3 separate regions of the Homo sapiens genome follow, and regions 1 and 3 are each linked to region 2. Evidence: fine-mapped expression QTL. A gene starts in region 2. Each other region holds a variant in brackets. All regions are shown on one strand. Distances are from middle to middle. Region 1 has its middle 170 kb from the start of LINC02967. Region 2 holds the start of APMAP (adipocyte plasma membrane associated protein). Region 3 overlaps ACSS1 (acyl-CoA synthetase short chain family member 1).

Region 1 (7,363 bases), 250 kb before region 2:
TGCGGCCCCAGCCTGGACTTGCCCAGAGGAGGAGGTCAAGAGGGCACCAGCAAGGGGTTGGCTCGGCAAGATCAGAACCCTCAGTCTCCAGGAAGCAAGATGCCAACAGCATCTGTGGCTAGGAGTCAATCACCAGCGTCCCCTCAGACCCCACGTCTGCCCCTCCCAGCCCTTTCCCATGGCAGCTTCCTGGGATGACCTTCCTCCAGGCACAGCAGGGGCTGCCATCGCAGGGCAGCAAGTTGGAAGGGTGGGCTCCATGCACCCACCGAGGGGCCTTGCCTCCCCAGCCCTGACCACAGCCAGTTCCATGCACATGCTCACCAGCCTGACAGGGACCTGGGACTTATTGGCCATGAGCCTCAGACGTATTTGAAGGAGAAAATGTATTTTGGTTTTCTGCCAACCTTATAGTCTTTTATCAAAGAGAAGGCACTTGAAGGCGCTTCTCAGAGGGAGACTTTGGCAGGGCACCCTGCCCCGAGGTGGAGTCGCTCACCCCTTCCGCTTCCCAGTTCTGCTGCTGCAGCCTCCGAGGCTGGCTGAAGGCTGATGGCCCATCGCAAGGTGTCTGTGGCTGCTGTCCTTTTACTTTTAAAAAGTCACTCAGGCCTGAGAGCTGGGGATGGGTAGGCAGCCTGTGGCAAGACCTGCCCAGGGCTCTATCTCCAGCTGCCTGCCCCACCCATGCCCCCAGCCCATCAGCTCACACAGACACACAGCACAGCGTGGAGAGTGTTCCTAGAAGCAGCCACCTTGGAGGAGGGGTCCCCTGTTCCTGAGAACTCCAAGGCATTCCGCTCCCACCCTTCAAAGGGCACAGGTGGCTGCTTGTGGACCTGATGGTGCTCACACCCTTCACAGGGCACAGGTGGCTCCTTGTAGACCTGATGGCGCTTGGTATCCTGTCCTGAAACCATGGCCTCTCATTCATCTATAACTGGGTTACAGTCTATCAGATTTAAAAAAAAAAACTCAAAATAATAACCACCTATTACAATGGCCTTGGCTCCACCGCACCCACCAGTTCAGCATCGCAGGGTGGGCTGTGCATGCCATGGGCTGCTGGAGACCAGGAGGCCACCTGAAAGGCAGTGTGACCATCAGGCTGCCTCCACCACTGGGACCCTGGCATTGGACCACACTCTCACAGTGGGATGAAGTGTTTCTGCATGTTTCTCTGTCCTCCATCCATCCAGATCTCAGCGGGACCTCCTGCCCATCCTCCATGTGATTCAGAGTCCTCGAATGCACTCCATGCAGCAGTGAGGTGGTTCTTCCATGAACAGTTTTGTGCCCGCCACAGGCCAGGCACCATACCAGGTACTGGGACACCACCCCCCCACCACCACCTCTATGCGCTGAAGACCCTAATACCTTTAAAGCTGTTTGCTGCACATTACAATCACCCACAGAGCTTTTAAACTCCCCTAGTCCAGATTACTTCCATTCCAATTAAATTAGAATTGGGGGCAGGGCAGTTGAGGATTTTTAAAGCTCCCTGGGTGATTCCAAAGTGCAGCCAGGATTGCGAATCAACCCTTTAACATATCACTTTTATTTTAATTTCTATTTACTTGCAAAACAGTGCCTTTTCAAACTCGAATGTGCCTCTACACTCCTGGGAGTCTCACTCCAGGACAGGTTCTGGCTCAGCAGGTCTGGAGCAAGCCTGGGATTCTGTGTGGACCACAAGCTCCCAGGTGATCCTGATGCTTGCTTTGAGCCATGCAGCTTTGAACTCATTACCTCATTTGGTTTTAATGCCAACTCTCCCAGGCAGCAAGCCACAAGACCCGGAGTTGAGGCCACATGGTGGGTATTTTGAATCTTTGATACTCCACAGAGAAGCAGGTCTAAATCCCTGTGGATAAAGGAGGGCGTCTGTGAATAACAAGGGAGCAAGTGTGTCTTGGGAACTGGGCACGGACAGGGTCCCTCACCCAGGAGACACCTGTTTGCCTGCCTGCGTCCTCTAGGAGGCTTTGACTCTGTGGGGCCTCACAGAACACTGAGGATCTGCTCTCTGAGACCGGGAAGACTCGATATCCTCTTTCCCCTCCTCCTGGGCTGTGGGATCTGTGTACATCTCCCACACTGCTATCTCATGAAGAGTGAGTTCCTTGAGATCCCAATAGTAGCACTTTGGGAGGCCGAGGCGAGTGGATCATGAGGTCAGGAGATCGAGACCATTCCGGCTAACACGGTGGAACCCTGTCTCTATTAAAAAATACAAAAAATTAGCCAGGCGCGGTGGCGGGTGCCTGTAGTCCCAGCTACTCGGGAGGCTAAGGCAGGAGAATGGCGTGAACCCGGGAGGCGGAGCTTGCAATGAGCCGAGATCACGCCACTGCAATCCAGTCTGGGTGACAGAGTGAGACTCCGTCTCAGAAAAAAAGAAAAAAGAAAAAAAGAAATGCTCAGAACATGGTTCATGCTCAAACAAGTTATGGAAGGCATCCATTTCCATATGTTAAGCAAGTTTCTTCACTACAGGACTTCTCAGGGCCTTTAAATTGCTAAACCGCAAGACGATGATGCCATGTACAACTTTTCCAGACTTTTTCAGGCCATTCTTACTAATATTTCCTCCAAGAGTCTTGCCCAGGGTACAGGTTGGGAACACTGAAGTTGGCCACAGTTAAGCATTTGATGAATCCCTGTGGGTTGCAATCCTTGAGCGCCATGGGGCTGTGTGAGCTCCAAGGCAGCCTAGGACCACACCAGCGCAGGAGATCATTTATCTGGGGAAATCTCAGGTGCGACCTTAGTCTAGGCTGCCAGGTTCTCAGACCTTAAGCACCAGCTCTGGCCAGGAGGAAAGCAGGCAGCATTCGCACAGCACTTCCTAGATTAGAGAAAATTATAGATTGCCTTGAATTTGCATACTGGGACCCACCCAGAAACCCTGGGTTTCAGTCATAGCCAGTGCCAATGCCTGAATATAGCAAACTTCTGCTGCAATCAGGGCCCAGGTGCAGGGGAATTAGAATCAAAGGAATCTAATATTCCATATGGTGGGTTTTAGCCAAAAGTACCTTTGTTTCTTTTCTGTTTTCTCACTGATTTTCTCTGAAGTTGCTTTATCTTGGTCATTTGACCAGTGTTAACGCATTGCCCGAAGACCCCCAGAAACATTGACATTGTCTGAAAACTTGTTGGAAATGCAGGATGTCAGACCCCTCCCTGGACTCAGGAAGTCAGCATCTCTGGGGGTGAGGACTGCAGCCTCTGAACACGCCCTCCAGCAGACTCTGTGGGCACTGAAGCTGAAAAATTGCTGTTTTAAACCAAAGTGCCCGCTATTCCAGCATCTGCAAAGGCCCCAGCGTGGCCACCTTTGTTTCTTCATTGCTTTTATTTTTCTTTGCAAGCTTATTTTGCTTTATCTTTCTAACCATTTGCCTCTCATTATGAAGAACTTGGTGCCAGCCAAGCGCATGCCAGGCCCTGTGGGTGGGATACACAGGACGTCCGGAGATCCTGAAGAGCCTGTCCAGGTTTTCAAAGCCTCTTAGCAAGTCCTATTCAGTGCATATTCCTCCTGGTTTTCACCCTGCTCTTGGCCAAGGAAACAACTGGTTTATGCCTCAAATCCCCAGAAAGGGCTACTTTTACACGTGTTCAGTCCCCTTTAGAGCTGGCTCTGAAACCTGGTGGCGAATGTGCCTTTTCTTTGGGGCAGTGGCACCACCTGGCTGTACGTTCCAATCCCCTGGGGGATGCATGCAGAGACTCACTCCAGGACCTCCAGGGCAGGGACCTGGCTGTCAATATCGTTTAAGGCTCCCGGTGATTCTATTGTGCACCAGGCTTGAGACCCTGGCATGAGATTAAAGACTAAGGAAAACAAAACCAAGAGTTTTACAGGAGAGCTGGCAAAACTGCTGACGTGGGTCACAGCTCTGAGAAACATGGAACTGAAGCAAAGAAGACCGGTCCCACAGTCGGATGGGAATGGAAACCCTCCAGCTCCTCCTAGATGGTGTTTGGCAACAGAGAGGCAGCCTGCAGTCCTACCGTGCCTACGTGGTCCTTTACGGGAAGGTCAGGGTTCACCAGCCATTCTTGGGGGCCAGGTGGTGTCTACCTCCAGTGCACTAGCCACAGTCATCGGGCCCAAGGCTGGGGTGGAGACTGAGGAGGCCACTCCCAGCCACAGTCCTACGTGTGATCCTTCAGGAGGGGGCCCCAGGCACTGACAAGCCTTTGCCC[G/A]GCAGGCCCAACAGGGAAAGCTGCCTTCCCCCCCCCCAGACCTGTGCCAAGCCCATGCCAGGAAGTCTCTGCAGGGAGTCAAGGACTCAGCCACGATCCTGTAGGCATCTGCAGTCCTCACCCAGGCACCTCCCTCCAGGCCTCCTCACCGGGGGCGTTGGCTAAGGCGTATTCCACAGTCTGACTCAGCGCTTTTCCCATGCCAGCCCGTGCCACGCCCCAGCCTCCCAGGTTCCTTTTGTTCAGGGCTCCTGGGCAGTGAGGATTCCCCAACCTGCATTGCAGACCCTGGCCCAGGGCCAAACCGCAGGAGGGCGAGGAAACTCCGCCTTGCTCCTTCTCCCACCTGCACAGTCCCGGGGAGGTTGTGCTCCAGAGCAGGGCTCTGCAGGCCATGGCCACGGCTCTGAACACCTCACCGTTGAACTCCGGGTCCAAGCTCTCGGACTCAACTCCCAACGTAGCCACAGCTAAGATTCCCTTTCTTTTTAACAAATTAGCATTAAAATGAACTGAAATTTGTTGATCCTGATTTAAGTTTCTTTTTAATAAGGTCGTGGATAAATTTCACAGATGGAGATGTGAGGGCAACCACACATGTATGTGGCGAGGGCCAGAAAACAGCTGCGGTGATAAATAAATGGTGGGTGCAAGCAAGAATCAAATAAATGGTGTGGAAAAGACCAGCCCTCTTTCTCTCATCTTTCTAGTCAATGATTTTAGTCCTCAGCTGCCTCCCTAGGATCTGTGTCTTACAAGAGCTCCGTTCTTTCCTGAAAACTGTATTTCTCTAAAACACTCCCAGAGCCCTTATCACAGCCAAGGCCTCTTTTCCAGTCAGTGGCCTGAGAGTAAGGCAGTGCCCTTGTCAGAAGCTGTTGATGCTGGTAAGAAGCAGTGACCTCTGACCCTTCTGGATGCTGCTGACTCCTGCTGTCACTTTTAATTGCAGAGAAAGTAAAACAAGAGATTTCTACTTTGTGGACTGTGCTACTTCAGCAGTCCCTCTTCAGGCAGCATGCACATATGCCCACACTGAGGTAAGGAACATGAGCCCAGAGGTAAGGAATATGACCAACCTGATCCCCTCAGCCATCACAGGTGGTGGGAAAAGACTTCAGGTGATTCACTCAAAGGCACAAACCAGGGTCCGGGCAGAGCTGGACTTGAACACACGGCTCCTATCTCTCAGGCTGTGTTCGTTGCTCTGCACGCACTCCCGCTGCGTGTTTACTCCTTGGCAATGTGTTGAGCACCTGCCATGAACCAGCTACTGCTGCTGTGGATGCAGTGACAACGGGACAGGCAGAGTCCCTGCTGCAGAGGGTCTGTGCTTTAGTGCAGCAGGCAGCTCTGCAACGTCAGGCACTCCAGCTGTTAAGGGCAGGTGCTACAAAGGGACCCACATCCGGGGGTGGTGAGTGTCCCTTCTCTGGCTCACTCGGGTACAAGAAAGGGAAATTCTGGGAAAAAGTGGCAGCAGTGACAGAGTGCTTACCCTCCCTAAACCTCCCCCTAAAAATAGATGGCATGCTATGGGCTGAATGGCCTCCCTGCAACATTCATATGTTTAAGCCCTAATTCCCAGTACCTCAGAATGGGCTCTGTATTTGGAAATAGAGCCTTTAAAGTGGTGATTGACTTAATGTGGGGTCATTAGAGTGGGTCCTAATCCACCTTGTTGATGTCCTCATAAGAAGAGGAACTTTGGGCACAGAGAGATACTCAGATGTGCATGCACAGAGGGAAGGCCACGGGAGGTGCAGCAAGCCAAGGAGAGAGTCCTCATGAGAAACCAGCCCTGCCCACACCTGGACCTGGGACTTGAGCCTCCAGAACTGTGACACAATAGATTTCTGTTGCTTTTGCTACCAGGCCTGTGTCATGTTGCTATGGAAGCCTTAATGCCCAGAACAACTTGACAGTGAAATCCAAAACTCGTGGACAGCAACCCAACATTCAAGTGGGTGGGACAAACACCCACGAGCCCCCAACCAGATAGTGTGGGAGCAGCAGAAGGAAACAGGAGACAACCCTCGCACCTGGAAACAGAGCCTCCAAAAGGCAGAGGGCATGGGGGTGATTTGGAAACAGCAGTTGAAGCCTAGCATTTGTCTAATGCTTCAGCAAGTACAAGTGTGAGCCTGCTGGGCCGTGGATCCTTCAAACTGGCCTGTCTGGGCTCCCAGCCAGGACAGAGCCCACACTGAGGAGAGATTGGGTGAGAAAAATCAAAATTGAGCAAGATCCCCATATCAAACCTGAAGTGGGGAGGGGAACCCACCCAGGACACCTCAGAGGGCAGACCACCCTGTTCTTAATACTACAAGGAAAGTGCGGAAGAGAGAGCTCTGCAGAGTTAAAAATCCTCCCCTGCAATCAGTCTCCTTCTAAAATATCAGGAAAACCATTTCACATAAAAATTGAGCAACAGAAGTGCATTGAGGTTCAATACGACACAAAATACAAAATTAACACAAGAAAAAGAGACGAAGCAGCAGAAAACCTTTCCTACTAACAATCAAAACTTGCCTGACAAATGGGACCACAAAAATCAGAGCTATCATCTATTATTTCAATATAAACTAAAAGACATTAGGAACACCACATGACATGAACACTCTTAAATGACTTTGGGAGAATTCATAAATAAGGTAACAAAACTCTAGAGAATTTGAAATAAAAGAAAATTATTGCAGAGGTAATGATTAAAATGAAAGGAACATAACACCAAATACACACAAGGGATAATGCCATAGAAAAATAGAAGGCAAAAAGAGGAAATTTGTAAAAACTGAAAAACACGAGTCCAGAGATGAAAAGACTGAGAGAAAGTGGCAAATATGAAAGATAGACAAAGGAAATCTAATATAAAGAAATTAGGAGCCTGAGAAAGACAATCAAAGCAGGAGAAACGATTATCAACCCAGAACAAGCAATGCCAAAACATATCCTAGTAAAATTATTAAACTGTAAAGAAAAGAAAAAAAATCTTTTGAGCATTCAGGCAAAAAGAGCAAATGACTTGTAACGAGAAGAAAGCAAATTATCATCAAACTTTTCAACAGCAACACTGTGTGCCAGAAAATAAATAAATAAATAAATAAATAAATAAATAAATGCATTAGAATACTCAAGGAAAGAAAAT
Region 2 (7,363 bases):
CTACTGTTCCCAAAGGCAGCCAACTCCTGGATGGGCTACATCAAGATGACCTGGGCCAGAGATTCTGCTTTGGTAGGTACAGGGTGGGCCTGCGAACTCTTTCATCGGTTGTTCCTCATGTGCAGCTGGACACCACTAACTCTATGCAGCTCCCTTCCCAGTCAGACTTCACCAACACCTCCTCAACCTCACCTGATCAGCATCCAGCCTCCACTGGAAAGTTCTGTGGTCACGTATTAGAAATACTAGCTTAAATTTAAACAAAACTCCTTGAGCTGCACTGTCCAATAGAACTTTCTGCAACGATGGAAATACAATAGCTACTAGCCATGTGTGGTTCCTGAGCACTTGAAATGGAGTTAGCTTGTTATATAAATGAGGTAAGCACAGCTCCTGGACCCCTGCTCTGGGTGCCACACTTATTTTAGCCCAAGGTCCATTAACTTTTCGGCAGGCCCTCATCAGTGTTGCTTCCTGTAAACTCACAGTTAACCACAATTCTTCTGTCTTTTCTCGGTGTCTGCCTCCCTCTTACTCTTTTTTTAACTTAAATAAAGAACACTGTATCGATCCCTATCCATTTTCACTGACAAAGCATTGCAGGTTCCCAACCTGTGCTGACACATCCAGGAACGCTGGCAACTTAGTTCCCAGGCGCAGTTTGAGAAATCAGTTTGTTTGCCCCAATCTCTCGGAAGAGCCTGGAGGGATGCCCATCTCCATGAGGACATCTGCACCCTGAAATTGCCTACACTCTCTGAAGGCAAGAGCACAACCACAGTGATGCAACAGGATTTGACAACTGCTGTTGGCTGGGCCATGATTTACACAATCTTCTGTAGATTCACCAGCCAATTTGGCAGATTTTGAAGGGTATCCTCTAACTCTGCACACAGGACATTAGGGCCTTGGGTCCTGAACTGAAGTCCCAACAAGCAGACTCCAAGAGATCAAAATTCACCTGTGATTGTTGTGGAAAACCTGATAGCCCCAAATCCATGGGGTACCAGCAACCTCATGTGTCAAGGTGATCCCTGGAACCTGAGAAAATCAGATAGCATCAACCCATCTTTTTTAGTGACAGCATCTTGAATTTGTTCATTTTTCACAATCCTTTAAACTGGGGCTCCTAGATTCATCAATTTATCCTTGAAAAAAATTAAGAAATCAAGAAACAAGTTTAAAAAGCCATCTGAAAATACACACCTGGGGCAAAGCTGAGACAAACACTCCAGCTGCCTTACTCCTCATGAATTCGTGAATGCCCAATCTGTTTCTCCATACTTCCTCCCTTACTCTTCAGTCTCCAAGAGGAAAAAGGAAAATGGACCTAGCAGACTTTTAATTAAACTAAAATCCTTCAGAAGTTTATTGAAAAAGGAGAATTATACAGAATTTAATGTATTGAAACATATTAAATCCTCAATGTATTTATTCTGCATCCCTAAACAGTCACATATGGACATTAAACAGTTCTCTTCCTAGATAGAACTGTGTTTCAAACAGAAAGGAATAGTTCCACAGAGTACAATTAAGTTTCTAAAGCATTTCGGGAAATCAATGTCAAATAATAATTATAAGCTTGCACCGGTATGTTAAAGTACTTAGCTCATCTATGTTCCACACTGAATAAAAGAATTTACCAACCAAATTCTCCATTATATTTCAAATACAGTAATTCAAGAGCTTTGGCATAAAGTCTTATTTCCAAAGCATAATTTTAAAAATACACTTCTCAGTCATTGTCCAGCTGCCAGTTCTATCCTTCTTCATTCATTTTCATTTCTCTTTTGACTCTATTCTCTGTAACTTCATATAAACCACCTCACACACATAGACCTCAATGATCTCATCAGCAAAACAAAGCAAACACCCACCTTTTGTGCCAAGAGTTGGGAGACCACCCAACGTATTACTAGGGGTCCCTACCACTGCTAAAATCTATGTCTTAGTTCTGTCAGTTTAGTAATATGTCTTTCAAGGCTTCCTTTATTCTATTTAGCACATCTAAAGTGCTAAAGTTTATTCTAATAGTTTCGTGTTTTTACTTCTGAATTTAGATTCCTTTACTTCGCCCACTATACACAGGCTTTCCTGGCTTATGTTGAACCCTCGACTTTTAAGGTAATCAAGAATACTATTACATGAACTACTAGAAATGACCACAAAATAAATGAAAAATATAGGAGAAATGCAGAAGAAAAATAAGAAAAACAGCTACCATGTTACAATAATAATTGCGGAAAGGAAGGGTGGTGACAAGACCTCACTTTGAAAGAGATCATTACAGATATACAGAAAAGGGATAAACAAACAAGAAGGACAAACACAGGGAAACAGGAACAATGTTCATGGACAGGGAAGTCAAGGAAATAAGTAAACATAAATGTAAAAGGCACACTGGAAAAGATCAGGCAGTAAAAGATGACTTTAGAATCAGATTTACTTACTCATTAAGGAAGAAATCCCCACAGAGAACCTGAAAAAAACAATTAAGTCTGCCTGCTTGCCCTGGGGCCAGAAGTGTGAGCCAGCCAACTTGAGAGTTGGGACTACCTAACCGGTGCCCTCAGGGGCTGTAGGCCCTGGTTTTCAACACACTGCACCTAATGACAAACTCAGGCCACTGCTCTTCCATTTCTCAGGTAAAAATGCCTTGTTTTCAAGATTTCTGTAGGAAAGTGTTGCCAATTCTTGCATGTCCATTCTAAATGGCTCCTCAATCATCAACAGATGATTAATTCACAATATTCACAGTAAGTAGGGTGATCAGATTGTCCCAGTTTGCCCAGGTTTAGCACTGAAAGTTCTACATCCTTGGAAACCCCAGTCCAGGGCAACGCAGGATGGTTGGTCAGGATATATGGGAGCATCTTCCCGATCTTTTCACTGGCCCAAGGAGTCAACTATCACCGCAAAGTCTTCTCTCTAAATTGCCTCTCTAGAGCCTAAATGCTCCTTCCTGCCATCGCTCTCCTTCAAATGTGTTCCTCTTATCATCAGTCAATAAACTCAGTCTACAGGGGCAAAAACTGCCTCTCATTCATATGTACCCCACCACCTCTTGGCACACTACTGATGAACAAATATTTCCAGTATTTCTATCAAATATAAGTCAATCAGTCCCACAACTTCAAGCTTGGTCTATGGGGCCTCTTGATTCTCCCTGAAACTTAAAAGTTATGAAATTCAGGACACAGAATTGAAAAGTGAATTTTAAGTATCTTATATTGAAATCTATGCTTACGAATCATGATTCAGTTTTTAGCTAACAAAACACAGCATTCTTATATTCTGAAAGATGGGAGAGGAGGCAAAGGGCAAAACCTGATATTTCTTAGGTGTCAACAACTACAGTTTCCTATGTTTCTCCATCCCTATCAGGAAAAACTGCCAGGCTGAATTCTCACAAAAATTGCCTACAATGTCACTACTGTTCTCCACTCTTTCCAAGAACCGCGGTGAGGACTGGTCACGCAGCGTGAGGGGGGCAGGTGCAGAAGAGCAAGTGTAGAAGCCATCTCTTCGCCGGATAACGAGGCAGGACCCCAGCATCTCGTGGGACCTCCTCCCTTCGGGAAATTGCGAGCGGGGAACCAGGAACACGCAGGGCCCCGGCCAAGTAGCTGTGCTCAGGGGGATCATTTAAGCCAAAGGAAGGACAGCGCGAGGGGAGCGAGGGAAAGGCGAGGAAGCAACCGCTATGCAGGGTGGGGCAGGAGTGAGGGAGGGAAGGCAAAGGAGCGGCGCGAGGCGGTCTCGGGTCCGGAGAGCCGAGGACAACGCGGCGACTGGGCGCAGGGTGCACCCGAACCTGAAAGACCTGGCAGGTACATCCGCCTTGTCGGAGCCTGCTTCCTCGGAAAAATGAGTTTTTCTTGGGGATGAAACGAGAGGACTCTGACAACGCGCTCGGCACCGCATCCCCAGGTTACTGTTACTGCCGTCGCCGCTGTCCAAGAGGGTCGCCCTCCACTCCTAGCGGCCCGGCTCCAGCGCCCAGTCTGGGAGTCCGCCCTACCTGCCGTCCTTAGCCTCCGGGGCCTGGCCATCATCGTCTGTGACGACCTGCGGCCGCAGGGGCCGGCGCTGTCGCAGCCCGTCCGCCTCGCTCATGGTACGGGCGCCAGCCTCACCCGCAGAAACCACCTCACACTGAGCGGCGCCGGCTCAGACTCCAGGCCCGCCCTCCCCCGTACGCGGAAATGACGTTGCGCCCAGGGACCATTCCGCAGCGTTCTCCCCGCCCCTTCCGGCCTCATGGGCGGGAGGTCCCCGGCGCGTCGTTGCTCGGCGCTCTGAGGCTAATTCTGACCGCCCGGAAGTGGGGCTCGGAACCCGCTCAGAGATAGCACCGGGAGCTGCCGGGGTCCCCGCCTGTCTCGGACTCCGGGGCCCAGAACGCGAGTGGTTCAACCTCGGGCTCGTCTAGCCCAGTGCCTGCGCATGCCGCCTTCGTCTCACGTTTCTGAGGACGGGGATGCTCATGACGCACTTGGGAATTGCTAGCACGAGATGTTGGCCACTTTTATCGTTGGAGAGGATAGCGCTGTTTATTCAGTGTCAGCGACCCTGCTCTTACAGGCAGCGTCAAAAATAATGCATTCACACCCTTGGAACGAAGTCACCTCTGCCTGAAAATTACATCCTTCCCCGACTCAGCCGGTTAAGGGGAAAACTTGGGCTAGAAAATGTTTCCCTCTGGTTAAGGCCAGATGTTGAGTATTAAATCTTTTTGTGACGATTACAACAGACATTTGATAAAGTTTATTAAGTTTTGATAAAGTTTATTAAGTTTTGATAAAGTTTATTAAGGATTACCCTTAAGTAAAGTCCAGGTAGAAGTAGAAATTATCACTAACAAAGTTTAAGAAAGCATAGAGAGGCATTGTTCTTTCAACAGTATTGCAGGAAACCAGAAATGTTCCCAGGTGCTGGGAGACGATGGTGGGCAAATCACAGACAAGGCCCCTCCTTATAGAAATTAAACTAGTGGGAAAGATGACTTTAATCAGATCATCATCATAAAATAGACGTAAAATTATCAAACGTAATAATTGCTTCAAAAGGGAAGAGCTGAATCTTGTGAGAGCATTTGAGATTCAAAGAGGAATCGAATCTGGAGGAAGTGACAGGCAGAAGAAATCAAAGCCCGTTACCAGTGGCACGAGGAATTATCTCTGGAAAAGCCATGTTCAAAATGCAGTGTTAAGAAATAATTTCCTCTTGGAGGCTTTTACCTTTTTAAATGCTAGATGGCACTAGAATTCCATGTGAATGCTTTTTATTTATTCATTCAAAGAGCGGAAGAACCAGCTTGAGGGAAGTGGAGAGCTGTGCAAATCCAGTTCTCCAGAGATCCCAGGTAATAATTCAGGCCTCGACAACATTTTACTTCATTCTGTGTCATTGAGAATAGCCAATACAGCTATTAAATCAGGGATAGTGTTAACAAAGTACTGTATGATCTCACGCCTTCCTGCCTGTCTGGACTATCCCTCTTGCTCCCCACCCCCCATTTCAGACATTCAGGATGGCTTAACATGTCTAATCTCATGCCTGGCTGCCTTTGTCCTTGAGGTTCCTTCTTCCTGTGATACACTCTCCTTCACCTCCACTTGGCCAATTATTTTTATCATTCAGGACCCACTTCAAGTATCCTTGCTGAAAATTCTTCTCCCAGTTTCCCAAGCAGAACATCTTCCTCTTTGTCTTCAAGGCACTTTAAACATGTCCCAGCCATAACATTGAACTCACTGCATTGGAGCTATTTGTGTTCCATGCCCAGTGTTAAAGCCCACGCACTGCAAACACCCAGGGACACATTCAGAAGAAAAATAATGGCAGTAAGTTGGGTTTACTGAACTTGCTGCAGCAAAGAAATGCACCAGAGGACCGGTGAGGTTCCTCAAAATGGGGGAGTCATGGGAGACTCCTTGTGGGGTTTGGGGGCTGGAGTTAGTCCATCGATAGTCTTGCCCAGGGTTGGTCAGAATCCGTTAACAACGGGAGTCACTGGAGGAACCGTGGCCTTAGCTCTGGGACATGTAAGTCCATTCGGAGTTATCAGGAGGTCAGCTCGTGGGCTTATCATGAAGCACGTAGGTAGTTGGTGTTACAGTGGTCTGAGCTAGATCATTTGTGCTGCATAGCACGGGTTCAGTACAGTTTTTCTGTTTTCAAGTCACGGTGAAGCACGCTTTGCTTGTTGTATTTGTTTCAGTTATCAGTTCTCCCACCCCACCTTCCAACCAGACCGACTTTGTTTCTCATCGTGCTGATGCCAGTTGTTGGCAGAGGAATGGGACCACTATGATTAATTTGATCAGGTTTCTCAGCACCACTGATATTTTGGGCCAGATAATTCTGTTAGGAGGCGGAGGGGGGCCTCTCCTGTGCGCTGGTGTTTCAGCAGCATCCCTGGGCTTCCCCCACTAGATGGCAGTAGCATCCCACCTAGTCGTGATGATAAAAAATGTTGCCAGACATTGACAGATAGCCCCTGGAGGACAAAACAGCCCTTGGTTGAGAAGCGCTGAGTGAGACCAACCAAAACCCACACCCAACCCTGGCACTGGGGATGAGGCTCACTTCCATCGGAACACTGGCCCACGTGGAGGGCATTTATCTCAACAAAAGCAGGCTCTGCCAGCATGGAAGAAGAAGCGCATGATGCTGGCAGGGAGCCCACAGTATGCCTCGCAGCTCAAACCAGAAGCAAACCCTACTTCTAGTCCAGTGCTTTTTCCCAGTCCCATGCTGTTTCAACTCCTTCCACAGAGATCTCCTGAAAGCCTGCCAGATGCCAAGTGCGGTGACAAAACAAGGGTGAAATACAGTGATCCAGCCTGCACAGGCGTTATCATCTTGGAGGGGAGAGAGGAAGCGTAACGAACGACACTATAAAGCACTGCTGCAGAAGAGCTGCAGGGTACCTTGGGGCTGCAAGGAGGAACAAGTGCTATTAGATGGGACTGACCAGAGATGTCTTCTTGGAGGAAGGGGCTTTGCACCAGGACTTAGATAAATAAGATTATAATGGCGGGGGGAGGGGGAGGTTGGGGGATAGAGAAGGACAAGAAACAGGCTAAGAGGGATGAGTGGGGTGCCCAGGGATTGTTAAACAAGGGGGTGATGATCAGGGATGGACATCAGGGTTACTGAGTGATCAGAAAGAATAGCCACAAATATATACGCCTGTTATGTACCCACAAAAACAAAAAATAAAAATAAATATTTTTAGCAAAGAAAGAATAGTCTGAAAAGGGCAAAGCAGAGCAGGAAGTAGCTGAACCCCTTCTTCCCCACAAGTCCAGGAAAGCACAGAAGGCGCTGCCAACTCGGAAAAGGGCTGCAAGGGAAG
Region 3 (7,363 bases), 53 kb after region 2:
GTGGGTTGTGGAGCCCAGGTGTCAGCCCAGTCAGGTTCCACAACCCACCCGCTGGCCTAGAATTGCCTGTGGTCGCCCCAGAGAATTCTCAGAAAGGTCCTGTCCCCAACAAAGAGGTCTCTGTGGACATAAACTCCCTCAGTGTGGGTCACTGTGCTGCAGTCTGAAGATGGGGCCTCTCTAAACTACGACGTGCCAGGACCTCGGCACCCAGGAGAACGCAAGGGAGCACAGGCAGCGTGCGTAGGAAGACCCCAAATATTCCAGTGGCAGCAGCCGCAGCCTGGGGCTGGAGGAAAGGTGGATGCTGCTTCAAAAACAGCCCACCCCGAGTAACATGGGATCCTATCAGATTCTGGCTGTAGCGTGCAGATTCCAGACCAAGGGTCCCAGCCCAAGTCTCAGAGGCTGCCCGGGCACCCTCCTCTCAGGTGGGGCAGCTAGGCCGGGACTCCACGCCTCACCCCACCATGGGAGCCCCACAGACCACACCGAGTTTGCCTTCCACGACAGCCGCTGTGTCACACACGGGTCAACGAGGCTGTTCCCCCACAGCCTCCCGTGAGTTAGGATCCTCCCCCAGCTGCCCTGATGTTTTAATAAGGGAGTGTGCTCACTAGGGTAATTAACTTGGGAGGTGAGCAGAAGAGCAAGGGGCAAGGGTCACCCACTAGGGACATGGGGAGGGGGCACACTTTAGCTGATGTACGTGTCCTCCCAGGCAAAGTCCCGCTGAGTACCGTCACCCCTGAAATCACCACCCACCCACTCTCGGCCCCAGCAGCCATGGGGCCACCCATGTCCTGCCCTTCTTCAAATCTGAAACCCTTTGCTGGCCTTCCTTCACCTGGCCCTGACCTGCAGCTGAAACGGACCCTCATCCTCCAGACACCCCTCTGGTTTTCATCCCACATGCCCCTCTCCACGCCCAGCAGCCCAGTGGAGGAGAAGTGTGACTGCATTTTGCAAATGAGAAAACCAAGGGTGGGAGAGGTGGAGTGACAGGCTCTAGGTCCACAGCCAGGGTCAGGCTGGGCAGAGCACAGCCTCCTGCCTCCACCAGGTCCTGGGCCCTGGCCCCTCCCCCTGCCAGGGACAGGGCAGGCAGGGCACAGCCTCCCGCCTCCACCACTTCCCAGACCCTGGCTCCTCCCCGTGCCATGTCCTCACCAGTCCCCCACTCCTGCCTTCGCCACACTTCCCCTTCCTCTGCCTCTCAAAACTCAACCCTCCACAAAGCCTTCTCCACCTAAGTGTCTGTGACAGGACTTCCTGCTTCCTGCTCCCCCCAAGGGACCAGCCACTTCTGTGACCTCCCTAAATGGCTGTGTTCGAAGACATCCAGGGCTGACAACAGAAACAAGCCTCTCAGAGAGGTGGCCCCAGGCTCAGTCCCCACCCCACCACAGCTGGAGTGTGTGGCAGCTCCCTCTGCCTAGGGTGAACGGCCAGGCCCTGTCATGCACAGCCCTGCAGGCCTCCGCATCAGGTGCCAGGCCTCACAGATTCGCAGTAAAGCCCCATGCCCAGCCCAGCACAGCACACCCAGGGAGAAAACCTCCCTCAGCTTCCTGGGACTCTGAGGTAGGTGGGGTTGGGGGAGGCCTGACATCCCCTCTGCTTCTCTGGTCAGGGGTTTCTCACTGTGCACGACCCCACCCAATAAAAAGGCCAGGAAGGAACAGCCACAGAAATCACCCCCACCAGCAGGAGTTTCCACGGGGGAACAGCTCCCAGAGTGGCACACGATGCCTGTGCTTCCTCACAGACTCGGGGCCCAGCTCTGCTCCTCCGTGCTTCATGCACGCCTGCCAGGGCTGGAATACTGGGGCCATTGAATCCCTCCTTTTACAGATGAGGACACCAAAGCCCAGAGGGATGGGTCCAAGGCCATAGGACAAGCCGGAGCTAAAACTTGGTCCTCTGGCTTAAGATGCTCTCATTTAAGTTCAAGTTTAAGTTCACACCCCCCTACAGAGACCCTCAGAGAAGAGGTTCACTGATTTGGAGGCTCTGCAGGCACCCCCAGCCTGGCACCCACAGTCCACTCTCTCCTCTGTGTGGGGGCATACCCTGCTGGCTGAGAAGATCTGGACCTGCACAGGGCCTCAGGCTGCTTCCTGCACCTGGAGTCCAACCCTAGCCTGGGAATTCCTGGCCCAGACCCCAGGCTCCAGGCTCCAGGCAGGGAGAAACACACCAGCTAGGCAGCAGCCATCTCAAAGCCTCATTCATCTACCTGGGCCACCGCTTTTCCGAAAGAGAGGAACTTGCATTTCTCCACATGGCCACCCCCCAGGGTCTCTAGAACCTGCCCATGTGAACTACAGTGTGAAGGACAGTCTTCTAAAACAGGCACCGGCCAGGCGCGGTGGCTCACACCTGCAATCCCAGTACTTGGGAGGCCAAGGTGGGCAGTCACTCCAACCCAGGAGTTCCAGACCAACCTGGGCAGCATAGCGAGACTCCATCTCTACAAAAAATAAAAAGCTTAGGCTTGGTGGCACACACCAAGCTATTGGGAGGCTGAGGCAGGAGAATCACTTGAGCCCGGGAGGTCAAGGCTACAGTGAGTTGTGACAGTACCACTACACTCCAGCCTGGGTGACATTTTTGAGCCCCTGCCTCAAAAATCAATAATTAAAAATAAAATAAAATGGGCACCTGCTGGAGAAGTGCAGGTAAACAGCCAGAAAGAGCCACTGCCGTCCCAGAGTGCTGCCTGGCCCCACAGCCTTGGGGCCACTAGGCCTACAGCCTCTGGCAGGCACTGTCCTGCTCTGGGCTTTCAGCCTGCTGGCTCACCAGGGGAGAAGGGCTGCCTCAGCTGGCTCCGGGCAGAGGAAGGCTGGAAATGGAGCTGGGACCCTGGAGTCGGGTGGCAGACTGCCCTGGGAGATGGGTGCACACGTCCCAGGCTGAGCCCTTCACCTCCCAGTGGGAATTGAGGACTGCATTTGTGAAGGAGGAAGCGGGGCAAAACCGCGGCAGGGGAGGGGGTCCTCCTCTCCAAGCCCTGCAGCCAGCCAGCACGAGGTCCAACCTCGCTGCCCAGTTACAATGCTGAAAACAGCTCTAGAATCCAGTGAGTACTCAATAAATAGCAGCTACATCATTATCACGGCTATTCTTACTTGCTAGTGCGTTCGGGCTGTCATCTCCCTGTGCCTACTTTACAGTCATCTCCATTGTGATAATTACCCTGGGTGTACAGATGGGAAAGTCACACCCGGGGAGATTAGGGAGCTGCACAAGGTCACAGGCCAGCAGCAGGATGGTACTGAACTAGAACTAGAACGGGCCTCTTTCTGCTGACCCTGCACCCCAGAGGACCTGGGGAAGCAGGGATTGCAAATCCTCCACTTGCAGGGTAAAGGCCATGGGCACCCGTCCCAGGGCTGCATCTGCCTGTGCTGACCCAGCGTCACCTGTGCCTAAGGTCACGGTGGGGACCAGAGTCGGGAGGTTTCCCTTGCCAGGTCACCTGGGATTGTAACACACAGACTTCCTCACACCCTGCAAGCTTCCTGCATCGGCACCAG[C/T]GTCCCAACCTCTACCAGCCCCACGGGGTTTCTTTAAAGGGCCCAGGCTGCTAGTCTGGACATTGATCTTCCAGCTGAGGAGGCCTGCAACCATCCTAGGCACCTCGAGTGCTGTGGCACGAGGCCCATGGGCAGAAAAGCACTGTGTTCAGTGGCAGTGATGTGTCTGTCAGGAGGACAACCAGTGCCAATGTCTAGGGGCTTTCCTCAGAGAAAGGAAGAAGAAAACCTCACATCAGAAACCTAGCCTGACCAGGACAATGAGGAACTCACATCCCTCAAATACTAGCTGCAATTACAGGTAACACTTTTCACTCAAACAGTAAATAGAAATGGTCACCTGGTACTAAGCCTGGCTAAAGTCTGCAAACCATTTTAGAAGAAGTCAATTTATTTTTATTTTTATTTTTATTTTTGAGATGGAGTCTGACTCTGTCACCCAGGATGGAGTGCAGTGGCACAATCTTGGCTCACTGCAACATCCACCTCCCAGTTTCAAGCAGTTCTCCTGCTTCAGCCTCCCAAGTAGCTGGGACTACAGGCGCACATCACCACACCCAACTAATTTTTGTATTTTTAGTAGAGACGGGGTTTCACCATGTTGGCCAGGTTGGTCTCAAACTCCTGACCTCAAGCGATCCACCCACCGTCCTCAAGTGATCCTCACCATCCCAAAGTGCTGGGATTACCGGCATGAGCCACTGCGACCGGCCCCTGTTTATTTTTAGAGACAGAGTAATAAGTACTTTGCCAGGGCCATTTCAGTGTCATGGACCTGAAGCTGTCCTTAGCTTCCACAGGCTGGCTGTGGTCCTGAGAATTCTCACATGGTTTATGTTTAACCACACGTCTCCACAGGGCTCCAGCCCCGCTCACAGACCGAACCGCTACTTAGCACACACTCAGTGCTCCCACGGGCAGCGTCCAGCCGAGGGGGCGTGGCACACAACCTGCCTGCCCCAGGGTCCAGGCACACCTGAGAGACTGATGGAGAGAAACTGGCCCTTCGGGGAGTGCCATGGCTGGGCCCTCCCTGCCGGACCTCCAGGTGTCCAGTTAGCTCCTTAGCCCCCGACCCCCAACAGAGGGTTTTCATCTTTTACTGAAGAACTACTCCAGGGGCAGCAGCCTCAAGTTCCTTCTCAGAAGGGGCTTTGTTCGCAGGCAGATGGAGCTGGGCCCACCGTGGCGAGGGGCAGCTGCAGCAGCTTGGGTCTTCAGAGCCAAGCACACTCCAGTGTGCAGGGGCCACCTGGGGGGCCGCTCAGTTGTCCAGTGGGGCCCGAGGATCCAGGGCAGAAGAATGCTGCTGGCCTATGGGCCACACGGCATCTGCAACCAGGGACTAGAGATAAGAAATGCGTGCTGTATAGGCTGTGAGTCTGGCTGGTGGGGGAGACGGGTCAGCAAAGGAGCCCTGGCCGAGGCTGGTGGAGCTGTGATGGGCCTGAGGGCTCCTGGGGGCCGAGGGGAGGAACGAGCAGGACAGGGCCCACTGGGAGCCGCAGCAGATCCACTAGCATCACTCGTCTGCCTCCAAAAGTCAGCATGAGCACGGTTTTAGCAGGTTTGGTGAATTTGGTCTGTGATAAAATTGGAGTTCAAGAAACAAACAGGAAACTACAAGTGCCCCTTCGCCCCCAGGTCACCCGAGTGGCAGGGCAGTGACCGCTGCTCTCAGGCTGCCCAGTGTGGACCTGCCTGTCGGAATGCTCCTCCTCCACGTCCCCTCGCTCCTGTGTCCCAGCCACATGCACCTTCCCTCTACCTCTGGGATCCCTGCACCAGGTCTGCCCCTGTCTTCTCAGGGCTGCTCCTCTTGGCCCACAGGACCTCAGCTGGAATGTTGCCTCCTCCAAGAGGCCTTCCTGACTATTAGCTCACAGTGGCCACCCAGCCACACTCTGCCATGTGCTTGGGGATTGTCTGTTACTGCAACATACTGCAGCCCATACTGACACGAAGGCACCCAGTGAAGACTTGCTAAGTAATTGGACAAGAAGACCCTGGAGCTGCCCCCAGGAGAGTAATCACGCTCGATGATTGTGTGTGATGGGGACTTAGGAACTCACAGTTTAGGGGCACAGTGGGCCTGAGGCATCTCTGTAAGGGTAAGGTGAGCTTCAGGCAAACGGGGTTTGCATGGAGAACCAAGGTGCTGCACCAACACAGCAGCCCCTACAGGAAGCAGCTTGGGGAAGGCCAGTGCAGACCGCCCAAAGCACACAGCATCTGAAGCATGCTTGGCACATAGAATCTGCTTAAGGAATCAGAGACTAAAAAGATCAGCTTAAAAACAAAACAACTCTACTAAAGATGATTTTATTTATTGTCCCATCCTCACAAGGCGCTGAGAGTGTGGCCAGGCAGGCTAGACCGGCTTTTACTGTGTTTCATTCTGCTTGCGTTCACATTTACTTTTCCTGGATAAGAGAGCACTTGCAAAGCCAAAATGCACTCCCTGAGACTCAGACGGCCCCTCCCTGACAGCCAGACTCAGCACACAGGACTGGGCTGGGCGCCTCCCTCGCACCTTGAACATTCGAGGGCACAGTACCTGTAGGTGATCCTCACTTCCGTTCCAGGCTCATCGCGCTCCCAGATCAAAGCAACGCTCTCGGGGGACTTCCGAACATGCTGGTCCAAGCAGTTGACTGTACAAAAAGAGGGTTTGCGGATGTTACACTTGGTGCTTTTTGAGTGAGAATTCGGCCAGGTTGAGGGGTTGGAGCGGGTCTAGTTTGCTGTGGCTCTCTCTTCTTCCACTGACAGAGACCCTGTCCTCATCAGTGATGATGTTTCTACCCCCTTGCAAGGAGAAGGGTGAACAAACATGATCTCAGAGGTACAAGGTGATGTCCTGCAAATATTTTGAAGTGGTTGCTTCACACCAGTGGACCCAACCCTGGCTGCATATTGGCATCTCCTGGGCCACCCCTAGAGACCCCATCCAATGGGTCCTGGGCCTTCAAAGCCTCAAAGCCCCCATGGTTGGTTCTGATGTGCAGCCAGGGCTGGGCACTGCAGCCTAAGCTGTTGGAAAGAACACTCAGTGCAAACAGGTTGTTCCTGTTTCAGGGCTTGGCTCCTGCAGTTCCCATGTGCCCAGTGCTGACCTGCCCCCAAGGTTAAAGGTGCAAGAAGGGACGAGGACCCAACTCCCCCACGTGTTCCACGAGCACCCAGTAAACCAGCCTTGTTCCAAGAAGTGGCTCGTGATGGGGAAATGTCCTGGTTTTGCAGAAGGCTCTGCTCCCTCCCTCTCCATTACCCAAGCTCCCACACATGACCCTCCGGCAGAAACAGCTCTGTGGCACACCGTGAGACTGAGGATTAGCAGCACGGGGCCCCTCCGCTGGCAGGCTGGTCACTACTCATTAGATTCCAAAGCTGAGCCCCTTCTGGCAACCCTCAAGCCAGCTCTCCTCACTCACTGGCTTATCGGAGGGTCCCCAGGTATGCAGGGACATGAGCCCCATGAATGGTTTTGGGGGCAGCAGCACCCACCCACCTGGTCTCTCAGGGTCACCCCTGTAGCCTGTTTGTAAATTACACCTCAAAAAATGTAACAAATGTAGACAGATTCCAGGAAAAAATTACTAATACTAGTAAGAGACACAGGAAAGTTCTTTGAACTACTATTAACAGAAAAATAAAAGAGAAGACATGCCCAAAAAATAGAAGAAAATAAAAACAAGAAGACAAACTAAGAAGGGGATCAGTGGCAGACCTGAATTTACACAACATCTCTGTGTGTGTTGGGGAGCTGGGGGTGCTAACCTCTGTTCACTGTGGTCATGCCAAGTGTAGCATTAACCCCA

The links.
Region 1: its variant is fine-mapped to the expression of APMAP in esophagus mucosa (GTEx, PIP above 0.99).
Region 3: its variant is fine-mapped to the expression of APMAP in whole blood (TOPMed, PIP above 0.99).

The regions. Positions count from the first base shown.
Region 1 is chr20:24,742,061-24,749,423 of GRCh38, forward strand. No RefSeq gene overlaps it. Among named protein-coding and RNA genes, the nearest start is that of LINC02967, 170 kb to the right of the region's middle. RefSeq lists enhancers at 337-1,237, 4,967-5,468, 5,469-5,968. The variant G/A (reference allele first, on the strand shown) is at 4,216.
Region 2 is chr20:24,988,573-24,995,935 of GRCh38, forward strand. It overlaps APMAP (adipocyte plasma membrane associated protein), which reads right to left and starts at 4,179. Exons shown (of 9, transcript NM_020531.3): 1 at 4,022-4,179. The coding sequence starts at 4,116. RefSeq lists enhancers at 3,732-4,232, 3,791-3,850, 3,871-3,950, 4,081-4,320, 4,233-4,733 and 1 more.
Region 3 is chr20:25,041,986-25,049,348 of GRCh38, forward strand. It overlaps ACSS1 (acyl-CoA synthetase short chain family member 1), which reads right to left. Exons shown (of 14, transcript NM_032501.4): 2 at 6,100-6,196. Among named protein-coding and RNA genes, the nearest start is that of ACSS1, 12 kb to the right of the region's middle. RefSeq lists a silencer at 1,041-1,100 and an enhancer at 1,251-1,400. The variant C/T (reference allele first, on the strand shown) is at 3,543.